Regions from separate parts of the Homo sapiens genome. Here region 2 is linked to region 1. Evidence: fine-mapped expression QTL. A gene starts in region 1. The other region holds a variant in brackets. All regions are shown on one strand. Distances are from middle to middle.

Region 1 (5,377 bases):
AAACTGTCCCCCATTCAACGATGTACACTGGACCCTTTATTCCTAATCCTCCACAGGCCCCCAGACACTTACCATTCCTACGTCACACCATAGACCTCACAGGCCAGGCAGAGTTATCCCTACAGGCCCAACTGATGACTGGACCTCAGTGACTCCCACAGGGCTTTTAAATACAGATGCCAGACACCATAATCACCAGCACCCCCAAAGCCCCACTTAAGAATCACCACAGACTGAAACCCCAAACTCTGAGTCCCAAAGGATCCCCACAGAACTCAGATACTCCTGCAGATGAGCTGGGGAGGGGAGGAGAAGGGTGGGGAGCGGGGGAGAAGGGGCTTCAGTCACTCCTGCAGGTGAGGTGGGGAGGGGATGAGAAGGATGGGGGAGGAGAAGGGTAGGGAGGGGAGGAGAAGGGTGGGGAGGGGAGGAGAAGGGGCTTCTGTCCTGGGACGAACACACTGGTCTCCATTCACTCACTTCATCAGGTGCCCAAGTCAGGCGCTCACAGAGCCCCTCCCCTGTAACTGACATTCTGAGGCTTGCGCCACAGACCCCCTAAATTAGACCCCAGTCACTCAATGCCCAGGGATCCCTAATCCCTTATCCCCGGGGCCCCCAAGCATTCGCCCCCATGACACCCCATTCTCTAATCCACTCCATGCTGGAGCATTCACTGACATTCCCACAGGCCCTCCCAAACACCACCTGGAAAGGGATTGTGGGGCTCTGCACAAATGCCGATCCCGCAGGCCCCTCCAATGACGCCAAGTATGACCCCCGTTGTCCACGCACTCACAACTTGCAACAGGTCCACCATTAACTTACATCCAGACTCCCTTGTCACAAATACACAGCGCCATTCCTAATGCTTCCATCATAAGATCCCCAAACACAAGCACAGAAACAAACCCCAGCCACTCGCCAGCATAGGCCACCCCATACTCGCCTCCGCTATTGGAGACAGGGGTTGAAAGAGCAACCACTGTTATTCAGCTGTCAAATAAAACATACAACTGGACAGAGCAAAGAAAGACGGTTCCAAAGGGTTATTGGAAGTGGGGAAAAAAAGACGCGGAAGAGGGTTGGGAAGGGGAAGGAGAACGGGCTTCTGGGAAGAACCGTGAAGCCACGAGACTCACGTGCATCTCTGCAAGGCAAAAAGGGTTTTTCTTTCACAGAGAGGTGTGAACAAGGTTAGCAAAGACCAGGCCTGGCCAAGCGAGGTGGAAGTGCGGGCGACCAGACAGCAGAGCGGGGAAAGCTTGACCCTGAGCCAGCCTGTTCTCAGGCGAGGCTGCGTGTTGGCTCAGGCTGGGGATGGGCCAAAGCTCAAGAAAATGGGGAAAGGAAAGAAGCTTAGCTAAAGTTTGCTTAAGGAGCATTTTGCTCCGACCGCTCGGTGGAGTTCAGCCAGTCACCGATGAGGCAAGCGACGGCAACGTGGCAGGTCTGTGTGAACAAGGGGCATCCTGGAGGCTGACCAAAGTCATATAGGGAACGGGAGATCTTTGCAGTGAGCCATTTGCTGGAACCCAAAAGGGTGGGAAATTCCTCAACCTTCGCTGTTTTCCAGGAGCACAGGGCTCTGGTGAAATCCAACACTGTCACAGCCGGCAGGCTTTCCAGTGAATGGAACCCACACAAGCAAGCCCCTAAGCCCTCCAACGCAGGCCCCCGCAGAAGCCTCATCATTCACCCCGCTGGCCTCCAATGCTCACCCAAAGGCATCCAAATCATTCATCAGCAGAGTCCTAATCGCTGCAGACAAATCCTCCACACGGCCTCCCAGGGGCCCCTCTCCCCTGGGGCCAAGGGCAACCTCGCGTCCCCTTGCCCCGCCCGTGCTGCACCCCAAGTCTACAGCGACCTCCATAGGCCCCCAGTGAATCGCCCAGCTGACCCCAAATCTCCCCCGACACCCACATTCAGCGCCCCGCCGCCGCCCGCCCTACAGCCCCCACCCCACCCTCTGCCTCCCACCCCCGCGCGCCCCCAGAGCCCCCGCCTGAGGCCCGCCTTCCGCGCATGCGCCCAGGCCGGTCCGCAGGCCTTTCTCGCCCCAGCCGGCAGCCAGCTCGTTCGCGCTGGGGTCACCGCGAGCCGGTCCGCAGCGGGGTCACCGCGATCCCCGGCGCAGACACAGAGGCCGCCCCCAGCCCCGCCGCCTCGTGGTCCCGCCCCCGCTGCACGCTCCCTTACCCCTCGGACCTCGCAGGGCCGCGGCGGACACGGCCCGATCGGGGACGTGAACGCGCAGAACTACATTTCCCAGCGTCCCGCTCGCGCTGGAACTACACTTCCCGGGGGGCTCGGCGGTGCACCCGCCGGGGTCGCGGATTGGAGGTTTCCGGTTGGAAAAGCCCCTTGGCGGCTAACTGGGGAGGACTGGAAGAAATCTAGGATGGAGCCAGCACTGCTGGCCCAACATGTCTGTGAGAGAACCTAAAGGCGCCTCCAGGAGGAAGCGTCTGCATCTTTTCCTTGTTTTTTTTTTTTTTTTTTTTGGAGGCAGGGTCTCGCTCTGTCACCCAGTGGGGAGTGCAGTGGTGCCATGAACGCTCATTGCAGCCTCAGGCTGGTCTCCGACTCCTGGGTTCAAATGATCCTCCTGCCCCAGCCTCCCAAAATGCTGGAATTACAGGCATGAGTCACTGCGTCCGGCTGCTTTTCCATTTTTCATCGTAGCTGTAAGTAATATCGGTAAATGTTAGTGTTACGTGCGTCCGTATAGGAGACCACCTGAGCAGGCTAAGTGTGAGCAACACGCCTGTTTATTCACTTGGGTGCAAGTGGGCTGAGTCTGAGAAAGGAGTCAGCGGAGGGTGGTGGGCTTGTCATTGGTTCTTATAGCTTTGGGATAGGATAGGCGGTGGAGTCAGCAGCAATTTTTTTTTTTTTTTTTTTTTTTGAGACAGAGTCTCACTCTGTCGCCGAGGCTGGAGTGCAGTGGCGCGATCTCGGCTCACTGCAAGCTCCGCCTCCCGGGTTCACGCCATTCTCCTGCCTCATCCTCCTGAGTAGCTGGGACTACAGGCACCCGCCACCACGCCCGGCTAATTTTTTTGTATTTTTAGTAGAGACGGGGTTTCACTGTGTTAGCCAGGATGGTCTTGATCTCCTGACCTCGTGATCCGCCCTCCTCGGCCTCCCAAAGTGCTGGGATTACGGGCGTGAGCCACCGCGCCCGGCCTCAGCAGCAATTTTTTGCGGGCAGGGGAGGATGTTACAAAGTACATTCACAAGGGCGGGGAGGGTGTATTGTCACAAGGGCGGAGAGGAATGTTACAAAGTACATTCACAAGGACCGGGAATATTACAAAGTACATTATCACAAGGGTGGGGGAATGTCACGATGGCTTGACCATGGTGCGGCCAGCTCAGAGGACCTTACATTTAGTACATCCAATCCAGCAGTATTGACAAAAGGAATGAAAATAGATGATAGGGTTGGGCGCGGTGGCTCACGGCTGTAATCCCAGCACTTTGGGAGGCTGAGGTGGGCGGATCACCAGGTCAGGAGATTGAGACCATCCTGGCCAACACGGTGAAACCCCGTCTCTACTAAAAATACAGAACATTAGCTGGGCGTGGTGGTGGGCGCCTGTAATCCCATCTACTCGGGAGGCTGAGGCAGGAGAATCACTTGAACTCGGGAGGCGGGGGTTGCGGTGAGCCATCATGCCGCTGCACTCTAGCCTGGCAACAGAGTGAGACCTCATCTCAAGAAAAAAAAAAGGAAAAATAAATGAGATGAGGACATTACAGGGAAATAAAATATATTTATGGATATATAAAGCAGTGGCTTGTCCCTGTAGTCCCAACTACTGGAGGCTGAGGCAGGAGGATTGCCTGAGCCTGGGAGGTTGAGGCTGCAGTGAGCTATGATGGCAACACTGCACTCCAGCCTGGGCCACAGAGGGAGACACCTTCTCTTAAAAATATTTTTTGGCCAGGCCAGGCGCGGTGGCTCACACCTGTAATCCCAGCACTTTGGGAGGCTAAGGCGGGCGGATCACCTGAGGTCAGGAGTTCGAGACCAGCCTGACCAACATGGTGAAACCCCATCTGTACTAAAAATATAAAAATTAGCCAGGTGTGGTGGCTCATGCCTGTAATGGCTCATACCTGTAATCCCACCTACTCAGGAGGTGGAGGCATGAGAATTGCTTGAACCCAGGAGGCAGAGGTTGCAGTGAGCTGAGATCTCACCACTGCACTCCACCCTGGGAGACAGAGTGAGATTCTGTCTAAAAAAAAAAAAAAAGAAAAAGAAAAACTGTAAAAGCATATTAGTTTTTTAAAATAAAAATGGGGAGAAACAGGAAACACACTCACAATTGGCAATTTAAAAAATTGAAATGGCCATAAAGACCAAATTAAAGTATATATGAAATAATATTTTGCTCAATTCTATATTAGTAAATTTGGAGCCTGTGAGAGATGGAGTTTTGCTCTTGTCGCCCAGGCTGGAGTGCAGTGGCACAATATCGGCTCACTGCAGCCTCCGCCTCCTGAGTTCAAGTGATTCTCCTGCCTCAGCCTCCCGAGTAGCTGGGATTGCAGGCGTGCGCCACCACGCCCGGCTAATTTTTGTATTTTTAGTAGAGACGTGGTTTCACCATGTTGGTCAGGCTGATCTTGATCTCTTAACCTCGTGATCCGCCTGCCTCGGCCTCCCGAAGTGCTGGGATTACAGGCGTGAGCCACTGCGCCCAGCCACTCCCAGCTACTTTTTGTATTTTTAGTAGAGATGGGTTTCACCATGTTGGCAAGGCTGGTCTCAAACTCCTGACCTCTGGTGATCCATGCGTCTCGGACTCCCAAAGTGCTGGGATTACAGACCTGAGCCACCGTACCCAGCCCACATTGCCCTGCTTCTAACTGAGATTCAACTTTATTTAAGCAAACCAATTCCATGCTCAACAGAGCTAAAATTAAAATTCTGCTTTAAGGTAGTTTTGTTTTTGTTCTCAGAAAATTTTGCTGTTCACAGATTTATGATTTTCACTTTTCTCCGAGGTTAAGCGTGTCATTTATTAAATGACTTACTAGAATTTATACGCCTTTTTTTTTTTTTTTTTTTTGAGATGGAGTCTTGCTCTGTCACCCAGGCTGGAGTGCAGTGGCGCGATCTCAGTTCACTGCTACCTCTGCCTCCTGGGTTGAAGCAATTCTCCCGCCTCTGCCCCCCGAGTAGCTGGGATTACAGGCACCCACCATCATGCCTGGCTAATTTTTTGTATTTTTGTAGAGACGAGGCTTCACCATGTTGGCCAGGCTGGTGTCGAACTCATGACCTCAGGTGATCCGCCTGTCTTGGCCTCCCAAAGTGCTGGGATTACAGGCATGAGCCACTGAGCATGGCCATGGCCTT
Region 2 (5,377 bases), 250 kb after region 1:
TAAATCAGATGGCTTCAGAAATGGGTGGTAGAGGAGTAGGCAGAAACTTGCAAGGATATGTGGATATTTGGAAATGGTTGTTTCCCAAGACAGGATGGAAGTCTTTTAAGCAAGAAACTTGGCCCATGCTATGAAGTCATGAAATGAATTGTTGGCATCATGTGCTCACTGAGGCTTTGGGGAAATGGATAAGTTGTCATTGAAAAATTTTAAACAGAATTCTGGAGTGGTCAAGAGGGGAATGCTTTTGATACCCATGTATAACATGGAGAATAATGATCTTAAAACTTCAATTTAAGATTATGTGTCAGTGATACTACTTAGTTACATGTAGCTATAGAGTCACAGTGGTGAAAAACTCTGCCAGTTGCTTACTCACAAAGTTAGTTTTCTTCACTACCTCATCAGGTTTGTTATGTGAGTGGGCATTAATCTGGGAAGAGTGGGACCCTGCCAGTTAGATTAGGGCTATCTTGGAGGAATATGCGGATTCAATACTGCAAATATTTCTGAAACACCTTCTGCTTTGTACTCTATTAGATACCCAAAGAAATTTTCATCCTTGAAGCGGAGGAATTTAATGATACCTGAATGCCTAACTGTTGTATTCTGCTTATACAGAATCCAATCTCAAGATACTTGGGGTGAAGAATGATGATTCACAGAAGGGAAGGGACATCTTACATAAACAAATAATCGCAGATACTTGCTAAAGTGTATCCCCCAATCTGGGAAATACTGTAAAGGTGTATATTATTATTGATGTACCAAAGAAGACAGAATAAATTCATAAGAGAAAGTTTATATTCAGTTTACTACTACCTAGGGTTAGATTTTAGTTTGTTGTTTTTTCAGATGCAAATCTACATGCAGCCTTGCCTGGTAGAAGCCAGAAGTGTTGACAGTATTGAGGACAGCACTCACATACTGTGGGAAAGAATAATACTTGATTAGGACTTATTATTTAATGAAATGAAAATTTTACAAAACAGAAATTGAGTTACTGGTTTGTAAATCTATCTAGTCCTTCTACCCCAGCCCCAGAAAAGAAAGACATTCCAGAGACTTTTCAGGAATAGTTATTATAAGGAAAATCCAAGGAAAAATAACCCCAATATTTTACAACTTCCCCATCAAATAGAAATTTAGGAGAAAAAATGACTTGCAAACCATATTTGTGAACATAGGTTTAAAAATCCATATTTGTGAACATAGGTTTAAAAATCCATATTTGTGAACATAGGTTTAAAAATTCTAAATGGAATTATAGCAAACCAATGTATAGCTAACAAGAAAGTCATGATATTAGGTTTAACAGACTATTAGTGGATCCAGCATCCTTTGTTCATTACCAGCAGAATCACTATTATTTATAATGGCAGTATGCCCACTTAAAAAGAGATATATGGGGCCAGGCACGGTGGCTCACACCTATAATCCCAGCACTTCAGGAGGCTGAGATGGTGGATCACCTGAGGTCAGGAGTTTGAGACCAGCCTGGCCAACATGGTGAAACCCCTCTCTACTAAAAATACAAAAAAATAGCAGGGCATGGTAACTGACACCTATAATCCCAGCTACTTGGGAGGCTGGGACGGGAGAATCACTTGAATCTAGGAGGCGGAAGTTGCAGTGAGCTGAGATCGTACCACTGTACTCCACCCTGGGTGACAGAACTAGACCCTGTCTCAAAAAACAGAAGAGTATGTTTGGAAGATTTAATATTAGAAAATATTTTAATTAACTACCAGATAAAACTCATAAGGATTATCTCAGTATATGCTGATAAATCACTTGATGGAATTTAACACCCATAGATGACACTAAAATACTATTAAGTTGGGAATTAAAATTAACTCCTGTAACTTGGTAGGGAATATATGTTCTGAAAACACAAATGTCATACTTAATGATAAAATAGTAGAAAGATTCCTTTAAAGTAAAATTAGCCAGGTGCAGTGGCTCATCCATGTAATACCAGCACTTGGGAAGGCTGAGGCTGGAGGATTGCTGGAACCCAGGAGTTCGAGACAAGCCTGACCAATATAGGGAGACCCTGTCTGTACAAAAACTTTTTAAAAAGATTAGCCAGGTGTGGTCAGGCGCCGTGGCTCATGCCTGTAATCCCAGCACTTTGGGAGGCCGAGGTGGGCAGATCACTTGAGGTCAGGATTTCAAGACCAGTGTGGCTAACATGGTGAAACCCCGTCTCTACTAAAAATACAAAAGTCAGCCAGGTGTGGTGGCACGTGCCTGTAATCCCATCTACTCGGGAGGCTGAGGCAGAAGAATTGCTTGAACCTAGGAGGTGGCAGTTGCAGTGAGCCAAGATTGCACCACTGCACTCCAGGCTGGGCGACAGAACAAGCCTCCATCTCAAAAAAAAGATCAGCCAGGTGTAGTGGCAAGTGCCGGTAGTCCCACCTACTGAGGAGGCTGAGGCAGGAGGTTAGCTTGAGTCCAGTAGTTCAAGGCTACAGTGAGCTATGATCATGCCCCTGCACTCCATCCTGGGCAACAAAGTGAGACCCTGTCTGTAAAAAACAAAGCAAAATTACAAGAATGCGCATCACTTTTATGAAATGAGTAACATCTAGCCAAGGTGTGAAAACAAGGAATGTGAGGAATTAGGGATGGGTGCAGAAACAACTGCCATGAATTGGAGATGTGATCGTGTAATTAGGAAACCCAAAATAAACCACAAACAAATGTTTGGAACTGCCAGTAGAGTAGCAAGTATGCAGTTGTCAGTATTCATGGAGGACCCCCC[CG/C]CAACCACAGATACTCCCTGTGGATGCTCAAGCTCCTTATATGGCATAGTATTTGCATTTTTTTTTTTTTTTTTGAGATGGAGTCTCGCTGTATTGCCAGGCTGGAGTGCAGTGGTGTGTTCTTGGCTCACTGCAACCTCTGCCTCCTGGGTTCAAGCAATTCTCCTGCCTCAGCCTCCCTAGTAGCTGGAATTACAGGCACACGCCACCACGCCCAGCTAATTTTTGTGTTTTTAGTAGAGATGGGGTTTCACCATGTTGGCCAGGCTGGTCTTGAACTCCTGACCTCGTGATCCACCCTCAGCCTCCCAAAGTGCTGGGATTACAGGTGTGAGCCACTGGTCTGTATTGATTTTTCTTAATTCTTTGCTAAAGGGCCAGGTAGAGTTATTTATTTCTTGTAGAGATGGGGTTTTACCATGTTTTCCAGTCTGGTTTCAAACTCCTGGGCTCAAGCAGTCCACCTGCCTTGGCCTCCCAAAGTGCTAGGATTACAGGTGTGAGCCAAGCACCCAGCCATAAATCTTAAATAAATTCTGATTTTGGTATAAATGATATATTTAAATTTAAATGAAGTTGCAAGTTTTAACATGTCTACTCTTTAATTTTCAACATTGTTTCAACTACTTGTTAGAAACACAGGCCATTAAAACATTAATAAAAAGGCTGGGCATGGTGGCTCATGCCTGTAATCTCAGCATTTTGTGAGGCTGAGGCAGGTGGATGACTTGAGGTCAGGAGTTCGAGACCAGCCTGGTGAAACCCCGTCTCTACTAAAAATACAAAAATTGGCCAGCTGTGGTGGCATGCATCTATAATCCAAGCTACTCAGGAGAATTGCTTGAACTGGAGAGGCGGAGGTTGCAGTGAGCTGAGATTGTGCCATTGCACTCCAGCCCGGGCAGCAGAGTGAGACTCCTTCAAAAAAAATTAATAAAAGCAAGCACATAGGGTGCACATTTGCCCTTCCCTCTTGGGATCCAGGGTGATCCCACAGGTGCTGTTCATCCCCAACTTTGACCTGGACTGTTGCAGTGTTTTGTCGCAGTGTTTCTCCCTTTTTTTGTACTGGGATTTCTCCCCAGAAACAAACCCATATGTATAAAAAGTAGTTGGGCTTGCTATAAAGATGACTAGTGGAAACCTCAATAGAGGTACGATTTCCTAAAATAAATCTTGTTCAGATATTACAGGGCAAAGTGAAACAGCAAAGCTCCCTCCTCAGCACTCAGGGTGCAGGCCTCACTTTTCCTCATCTTTTCCTCCTGTGGCCTCCATGTATCCCAAAGGTGAGATGACATCGCCCCAGATTGGTCCGGAAAGTGCACTGGTCGTCACTGTGGGTGTACCCTACAGGAGTCTTCAGATATGGAAGCTCTGGATCTCACTGTGATGTATCCCCCTAGGGGGTCCCCAGGTTGTGAGGAAAAGGAAGCTTTAGTCCTCACTGTGGTTGCATCCCCCACCACGGGTCAGTCCTGAGGAGGATACTCTGGTCATCACTGTGATCTACCTCCCAGGGGTCCCCAGGTTGGTCCTGAGGAGAAGGAAGCTCAGAACCTCACTGTGGATTTGCCCCACTAGGGTCCCTAGGTCAGTCCTGAAGAGAAACAAGCTCCAGTCTTCACTGTGGTTGTGCCCCACAGTGGTCCTCAGGTTGGCCAGTGGAGAAGGAAGCTCTGGTTCTCAGTGTGATGCATCCCCCAGGTTGGTCCTGAGATGAGGTAAATTCTGGTCATCACTGTGAAGTGCCCTCGGGGGTCTCCGGGTCCTGAGTAGAAGCAAGGTCTGTTTGTCACTGTGGATTCCCCCCTGCCAAGGGTCCCCAGGTCAGTCCTGAGGAGAAGGCAGCTCAGTCTTTACTGTGATGCAGCCTCTAGTGATCCCCAGGTCCTGAGTAGAAGGAAGGCCTGGTCCTCTGTGGATTCAACCCAGAGGTCTGTGAGCAGAATGCAGGTACTGCAAGCAGGCTAGACAAGGTGTGTGCTTGCACCCCTTCCTTACTACCTAGGCACAGTGTTGGATGGTCAGTGCTTCCTGTTTTGTGATGGCCATGTGCCCCCTCTTGCAGTCCCAGTGAACCCCTGAAATTCAATCTTACGATTTTCCATGCCATAATTTTGGAAAACGAAACTGAAATAGAGTCCATCATTCCATGCCTTAATTGGAATGGATAGAGATAATAAAAGGCAAAGTAGATGGCCATAGACAAAAGTCAAGTGATTTCCTATATATTTGAAATAATGTATAGCAATAATTGGAATTTGTAATGAATAAAATCATTCAAAAAAATCTGAAAAAGTGTTTGTATGCAAAATATAAAAAAAAAACCCTAAAATTGAACAAGAAGACAACCCAATTAAAAATGGGGACAGATCCAAATACATACTTTCCAAAGATATACAGATGGTGGCCAGGCACGGTGGCTCACGCCTGTAATCCCAGCACTTTGGGAGGCCGAGGCGGGCAGATCACCTGAGGTCCGGAGTTCGAGACCAGCCTGACCAACATGGAGAAACCCTGTCTCTACTAAAAATACAAAATTAGCCAGGCGTGGTGGCGCTACTCTGCCACCAAGTGGTAGCTACTCCGGAGGCGGAGGCAGG

Evidence for each region.
Region 2: its variant is fine-mapped to the expression of ZNF605 in whole blood (Lepik 2017, PIP 0.95).

What each region holds. Positions count from the first base shown.
Region 1 is chr12:132,954,041-132,959,417 of GRCh38, forward strand. ZNF605 (zinc finger protein 605) reads right to left here and starts at 2,266. Exons shown (of 5, transcript NM_183238.4): 1 at 2,203-2,266. LOC124903064 (a long non-coding RNA gene) reads left to right here and starts at 2,509. Exons shown (of 2, transcript XR_007063552.1): 1 at 2,509-2,690. RefSeq lists enhancers at 984-1,814, 1,243-1,537, 1,815-2,643, 2,397-2,476 and a silencer at 1,897-2,236.
Region 2 is chr12:133,206,118-133,211,494 of GRCh38, forward strand. ZNF268 (zinc finger protein 268) reads left to right here. Exons shown (of 6, transcript NM_003415.3): 6 at 1-5,377. Among named protein-coding and RNA genes, the nearest start is that of ANHX, 27 kb to the right of the region's middle. The variant CG/C (reference allele first, on the strand shown) is at 2,771.